Homo sapiens: one gene and its partner. The protein of the gene in region 1 purifies or fractionates together with the protein of each later gene. This does not show direct contact. Each region holds a gene or a part of one and is shown in the gene's direction. Other genes may lie near its edges.

Evidence for each region.
Region 2: the proteins of TRIM2 (region 1) and KLHL5 purify together in Homo sapiens (affinity purification with mass spectrometry; one large-scale study listed by BioGRID and IntAct). This does not show direct contact.

What each region holds. Positions count from the first base shown.
Region 1 is NC_000004.12:153,210,899-153,214,726, forward strand, and holds part of TRIM2 (tripartite motif-containing protein 2), read left to right. Parts: intron 1-3,828. UniProt on the Homo sapiens protein: UBE2D1-dependent E3 ubiquitin-protein ligase that mediates the ubiquitination of NEFL and of phosphorylated BCL2L11. Plays a neuroprotective function. May play a role in neuronal rapid ischemic tolerance.
Region 2 is NC_000004.12:39,082,687-39,086,514, forward strand, and holds part of KLHL5 (kelch-like protein 5), read left to right. Parts: intron 1-3,828.

The sequences.
Region 1 (3,828 bases):
AAGATCTGAAAAAAGCAGCCCTCTTCCCACACTCAACACATGCAGTAAACCCAGACATGCAGGGCACCATTGTCTGAGCTGTCACTGGAGGGCTGGGAGGAGACAGGGGATGGGGCAATGGCAGCCTACCCACCCCTCCTCATCACTGTCCAGGGGCATTCAGGAAACACAGGCTTCCAATATGAGGCTGCCTTTTTTTCTCACAAGCCATGCTCACTAGGAATCCATAGCGGCCATCTGCACACCGACCTGGTGGTGTCTCAAGCTTCCAGGTGTGGTTTTGGGGGCAGGGTCCTTGAGGAAGGGGGTGCTGCTGACAGTGAGGTAACCTGAGGTCAGCTCTGGACAGGGCTGGGTGGAAGAAGAGTGTAGTGACTGCTGATCCCTGTCCTTTCTAGGAATTGGGGTTACTGGGTCAGAGAAACATCTCAATACCTTCCAGGCTTCCAAGGCTGGTTGTAAACCTGCTCCTTGATAAAAGAAACTACATCCAACCTTTAGGAGCAAGGTGGGGTAACATGGGAGCAGATCTTAGTTCATTTGTTTGTTTGTTTTTGCTTGCCTGCTTGCTTTTTTGTTTTTTCTTTTTCTTTTTTTTTTTTTTTTTGAGACAGGGTTGCACACTGTTGCCCAGGTTGGAGTGCAGTGGTGCAATCATGGCTCACTGCAGCCTTCACCTCCCAGACAGGTGATTCTCCCACCTTAGCCTCCCAAGTACCTGGGACTACAGGCATGCACCACCATGCCTGGCTAATTATTTTTTATTTTTTTGTAGATATGGGATTTTACCATGTTGCCTGGGCTAGTCTCTGAACTCCTGGGCCCAAATACTCTGCCCACCTGGGCCTCCCAAAGTGCGGGATTACAGGCATGAACCACCTCACCCAGCCTACAAATTCTTATATGACAATTTGAATCTCTGCTTGGATTTGTTTTATCCTCTCTTGTGCTTGTAACTCAAACTTTAATACTTGAAAAGTTTCATCAAAATTTAAATATACTTTTCTAAATCTGTGAGAAGGCTGTCTCCCAAGATGGTTTGTTACTGCACATCTTTTCCCCGGTAGATGGAAATATCCCTTCTCTATTCTCTTTCCCTTAGTCTTTCAAAAACTCAGTGAGGAGGAAGTGCTTGCTTCTAGCTTCTGGCGGTAGGCTACATTTCCCAGCCTGTCAGAATGGCCTCTCTGCAGGCTTCAACCCTTATGAGAAATAAAGCTGTCCTTTAGCAAAGTCATCAAGCTAAGTGTCTGTCAACAGATGATGATTAAAGTGTGGTACATATACACCATGGAATACTACTCAGCCATAAAAAGAATGAAATCATGCCTTTGGCAGCAGCATGGATGAACCTGGAGGCCATTATCCTAAGTGAAATGAGTCAGAAACAGAAAGCCAAAAACTGCATGTTCTCAGTTATAAGTGGGAGGTACACAGTGGGTATATGTGGACATAGAGAGTGGAATAATAGGCATTGGAGGCTCCAAAAGGTGGGAAGATGGAAGGGGATAAAGGATGAAATATTGCCTATTGGATATAATGTACATTACTCAGATGATGAGTACACTAAAAGCCCAGACTTCACCATTACGCAATATTTCCATGTAAGAAAGCTGCACTCGTGGTGGTGTATGCCTGTGGTCCCAGCTATTCAGGAGGCTGAGGAGAGAGAATTGCTTGAGCCTGAGAGTTCGAGGCAGTGAGCTGTGATTGCACCACTGCAGTCCAGCCTGGGCAACGAAGTGAGACTCTGTCTCTAGGAAAAAAAGAAAAAGAAAGAAAAAGAAAAGAGGTGGATGCAGACTGGAGATTTAGGAAAGCCTTTTCAGCTCCTTTCTCTTGCCAAGTCTTGTTTGTGGCTTTGGTGGGTGGTTTTGTTTGGGGGCCTGTCTTCTTTATTCCCTTTTCTTTTTTCTCTTAATCAAAGCAGTCTGTTCTGGTACTGCAGTGAAACAACTCTTTCCAGTTCCTTTGCATGGTGGTTGTGCACGTAGCCTCCAGGCCTGGGCTTGCATCAGTCATTTTGTCTATTCATACAAAGGGAAATTTAGGCTTTGTTCAGTTCATCTCCTACCAGGGCATGTACTTTCACAGCTACTGCCTGGGAAGCTTTGTGTGCATGAGATATCACCAGTCTGCCAGGCTACCAACTTGACTGTAAGTGGAGAGACTAACTGATGAAGCAATGACTGTGTGCCAGGAACTGTTCTAAGTGCTTTATGTGTATGAGCCAGTCAGCCCACTATTACTGTTCTTCTCCATTTTCAGGTGAGGAAACTGAGGCTCAGATTGTTGAGAAAATTGTCCCAAGCCGCACAGCTGGTCAGGGGCAGGCCAGCATTCAGTTTCCAGAGCCTGTGTTTTTAACCATTATGTGATGCCTCCAGGGTACATTATATTCTTTTGCATGAATGTGCAAAAATATGTCTTCATGCTTCTATTTCTGTTCATTTAACTTGTTTCAATTTTTTTCTATCACAAATAATACAGCAATGAATGTTTTTGCAATAATAGCTTATAATGATAGTTAACATTTGTCGAATCGCTAACAAAGTGATGGGCTCTGTTTCAAGTTCTTTATGCATCTTAATTAATTTAATCTTTGTAGCAATCCCACTATTATTTTTTACTTATTTATTTATTTTTTGAGACAGAGTCTCGCTCTGTCGCCCAGGCTGGAGTGCAGTGGCACGATTTTGGCTCACTGCAACCTCTGCCTCCCGAGTTCAAGCAATTCTCCTGCCTCAGCCTTCCAAGTAGCTGGGATTACAGGTGCATGCCACCATGGCTGGCTGACTTTTGTATTTTTAGTAGAGACGGGTTTCACCATGTTAGCCAGCTGGTCTTGAACTCCTGACCTCAGGTGATCCACCCGCCTCGGCCTCCCAAAGTGCTGGGATTACAGGTGTGAACCACTGTGCCTGGCAAATCCTACTATTATTACTATTTAACGAATTTAATCTTTGTAACAAACCTACTATTATTACCATTTAACAGAAGAGGGAAACGAGGCACAGGACAGTTGGCTACATATTTTGTTCCAGATTGCACAATTAGAAAGTGGCAGCTTAGCACCATAAGACATAGTGAGGAAAAAAGAAAAAAAAAAAGTGGATGGGCTGGCATTGAAACCCAGAGCTGGTACTCTTATGATAGTGTCTAGACAATATCTGTGACCACACCTCTGATTGTACCTCAAGAAGAAAGATTTTTAAAGTGAAATTACTAGAGCATAAGATATAAACATTTAAAAGGTTTTTGATACATCTTACAAAAGTGCTTTTCAATAACACTGATTGATCATGCTCATTTGCATTTCCATGAGCACTGTGTAATTGATCAAGGACTCTAAAAGTTAGATAAGCCACTGATAAATGGAGATGCCCCTCTAAGTCCCTGGGCAGTAAAACCTGACCAGCATAGCCTCCAATAACCTGCATAGTGTTGAGGAGAGCTTGGATTTAAGAGATTAAGAGGGTCAAACTCTTTTCTGTCCATTTTAAAATGCAAGTTTTATTTAAGAGGAACTATCTAATATGCTGAAGACAGTATCAGGTATCTGTAAAATTGCTTTTTGTAACTCAGAATCTTGGAACAAAAGAAACAATAAAGAAAATTTGGAACCAGAACTGTTTACCCTACGGAAAATTTTTGTCCAAAGCAGCCTCTCAGCGTTCCACATCATTTTCATCATTATGAATAACGACAACAGCAACTAAGGTTTATGTTGCACTTTTGACTGAACACATGCCTCTTTCGTATTTCTTAGACCAAGCCAGTGTTTCTTGTACTTTCCTGATGATAAGAAGTACCAAGAGGTGTTGTTAG
Region 2 (3,828 bases), about 110 Mb from region 1:
TGAAGGATGATAAAACGAAATAATCTGTACAACAAACCCCCATGATACAAGTGTACCTGTATGACAAACCTTCACATGTACCCCTGAACTTAAAAGTTAAAAAATGGATTGACCTAGGATAGTAAGAAAATAAGGGCATGTTGAGAGCATAGTGTTAGGACCACCCTCTGTGGTCTTAACAGTAGAGGGGTGCAGGCAAGGGAGGGTGTTATGGGTTTTTGAGGAATGTTGCCACACTGTAGCAGTTAGTTCTTCACACCTGGGCAATGACTGAAGAGTGTTGCTTTAAATGCTTCAGTTTAGGGCAATACAGTTTCTAAGAGAAGAAAAAATGTGAATATTCACATACATATGTACAGTTATGGATATTACCAATTTTATCAACATTTAAGAAATGTTATTTTGCCTACCCTCTCCTCCGTCGTTCCACTGAGTTGGGATATGAAGAGATTGAGAGTGCTTTAGGAATCTTTCATTAGAGAAATAGAGATTTGGAAAAATTGTAAGAATAGGTATTTACAAACTATTGGCAAGATCAATTCTGTCTACTTCATGAGCTTGGTGTGAGGATTAGATGAGTTAATGGAATTTTAACACTCAGAACATTGATTGGCATGTCATATATCCAGTCAGTGAGTCTCATTCCATTGTTGTCATCATCATTATATAGATTTCCTCTATCCAAAACAATAGAAAATTATGGGAGGGAACAAAAGCACTCACAAAACCACAGCCTTTAATGACTGGTTTTCCTCCCTGTGGTGTAATCATTTCTCAGGAATTTTTTATGATAGTCACAGAGTCTCAACTGAAAAAATAAAGAGATTGTACAACAGGATGATAATATATAGCCCTAGCATGCTATTATGTTGACATTTTAAAAATTAAGTCCATTGAAATGTTTTTTTCCCTCGGTCTTTATCACTCTTTATAGATTCTCATTTTAACCATACACCTGCAGTTTCAACTACTTTTTTGAATGAGATGAATATAAATAAAGTTGGATTTTTTTCTTCAAAATCAGTTTAGAATTTGAATAATCATCTTTTTTCTAGGAAGGTGTTTTATTCAGGTGAAAACATTTGTATGCATTTAGGTCACTCCTGTTGTTTACAGTAGAGGCATGATTGCTGCTTTAAGGCTTACACAGAAATTAAATTTAAATTAGCTGGATGTTTTTAAAGCTATTTTCATAGCCAATTAGTTGTGTTAGATTTTTTTTCTCAAGGCCATTATTTAACATTATTCAGTTTTAACAGAGACATGAAATTGAATTCTAATAACAATAAGTAATTTAGAGGCAGCTTGTCTGATTTGAATTGTTGCTATGGGAACCAAATGAAAATGTATAGCAAAATTCAATCTTCAATTTAAATAAATCCCTCCGTAATTTCAGTTGCCTAAAAACTATTCCAAAGGGGGAAAGGTCACAATGCTAGCAAGCGTTTGGTAACATGATAGTTGTGTATATTATAATATGGATTTAAAATGTAAAGCATAATGCCACGCCAGTGAGTTCAATCAGTGAATGGTGCGTGGACTGGGGATGTTCACTGATCCTGCACGAATACAAGTGGTAAAAAATGAGGAGTCCTCTCCAGGATCCATGAATCTGGAAACCTGTTTTCTCATTCTGCCTGCCACTGAACATGACCTGGAGCAAGTCATGTAACCTCTAAAAAAGTCTTAAGACTGGTTGTATGATTACAACTATTTAATGTCATTTTGAATTTATGACACAAATAAAAACATTTAATTTTAAAACTTAAAATTGTCTTTCTCAATCTAGAAGACTTATAAAAAACATTGAGATCTGCTAAAGTAGCTGCTTCAAAACCAAATTAATACTTTTGAAAAATACTTTGTATTCAACCTTGAGTTCAGTAGTATTTCATAAGTTGTTGAAAAACTCAGTTTTCACTTAATGTAAGTTATACTAGAATGGAATGGGCATTATTCTGAAATAGATATATCAACAAATAATTCGTCAAGTGCATATTTACGTGATAGTCCTTTTGTTACTGATGAAATCCAATTAATGCCATTTGAAAGTATGGCATAGTTATACCAATGTATAAATCTGTCAATTATACTTTATATGTTTAAGGAATTGGAAATATATATTATTATTTCAGTTTCTTCACAATCTCACATAACATTTTATCATAAGTACCTTTCCATGTACCTACGTGATCTTTGTCTTTGAAATTTTTAATGCTTATTTAATATACAGCTCCCTATAACTGAACATATAGGCTATTTCCCATTTTTTACCATTGTAAATAATAATACAGAGAAGTATTGTTAGGTAGTCAGCTTTGCTTTTTGCTTACAAATTATTATTAAGGTTTAAATTACAAGTGGGATAACTGGGTTGAGAGTTTCAACATTTTTGTAGATCTTGCTATGTGTTACCAAAATAATGTCAGTATGCAATTCAATAGAACCTTTTGCTTGAAGCCATTCTAGCACTGAAGTTTTATTAAAATATGTTTCTGAAAATGATAATCCATCATTTAAAATAGACTCATTTAGACATCCTTGAACAAATCATGATAAATTGAAGCAATTGAAATTCATTAATTATTCATGAATGGTTTTCCCCTTTAGAACTTCTACTGATAGGAATGTCAAGCTAATATATATTTTAGATTAGTACCTCACTCAGGTTACCACAGGCTATATGGAAAATATAATTCTCATTTTAATATAGAAGATAGTTATTGATAGTCCTTATTTCTAGCTCTAATTTAAACAGCTTTAGCTTCTTTAGTAAACCTCTGCATGCTGAGACAGCGATAATACATCAGGAAATATGAGAAAAACATTAAGGGACAATATGTGTCTAGTATTTGCATTTATAACCGTGTCAACTATCCATTCATTAAGACTTAAAACCTTTCAAATCAGATGGTATGTTTTCCTTCTCTCCAGATTATTTAGCATAATAGCCTATCAAGGTCATCTCACACCTAAGGGCATTTTTATTTCCCATTTCAAATTATAGAGGATTTGATTCTAACGTGAGGCCAGGACTGAGTCATCTTCAGTCTAATGTCCTGATCCCAGGGCATTATAGGTCACTACTTTTTTTTCCACCTTTGGTCCTTTTTCCTGTGAGACCAAAAGAGCTTTGTAAATAAATTATATTAGAAGAGATTAAAAATTTAAAAACAGACCCTTAAAAGAGATTAAAAATTCGAAAACAGACCCAAAATCCTAGATGATCTTATAAATATCATTAAAACGATCTTGAAGACCGATTTGACTGTCGTATAACTCTAAGAACAAATACTCATTCCAGGGAGGATCTGAGAAGACATCTGTGGTCTAGAATGATTCTGGGAAATGTAGCCACTCTGGAGGCCATTTCTTAGTAAGAGAAGTAACCAAGCTCTCTAGGTATTTGGCTCCACTGCTGGCCGAATTCTTCAGCACCCACAAATCCAAACCGCAAATCCACCCACTTCTGGTGTTAGAGTATCATACATCTCAGTGTCTAATTCATTATTTCTCTCTTCCTTCAAAAGAATTGCCAAAAGTATTTCCTAACTTGAGTGAAGTAACACTTAAATGTCCTAGGTCCATTTTTTAAATGTAATAAGTGATACAACACTTTAATTCTACTTGCATATGTTTAACAACATAATTGCAGTTTAATTTTTTTTTCTCTGCTGTGTTTCTTTCCTAACAAGTAAGTATTACATTGTAAGGTCTAAAATATAAATTGTGTGTTGGTAGCTAATATAAAAAGCTTTTACTTTCTTCTAAGTAAATTGTGAAGGTCAGAAGGAACAATATTGTTTATCTGCTATTTCTTCCCTCTAG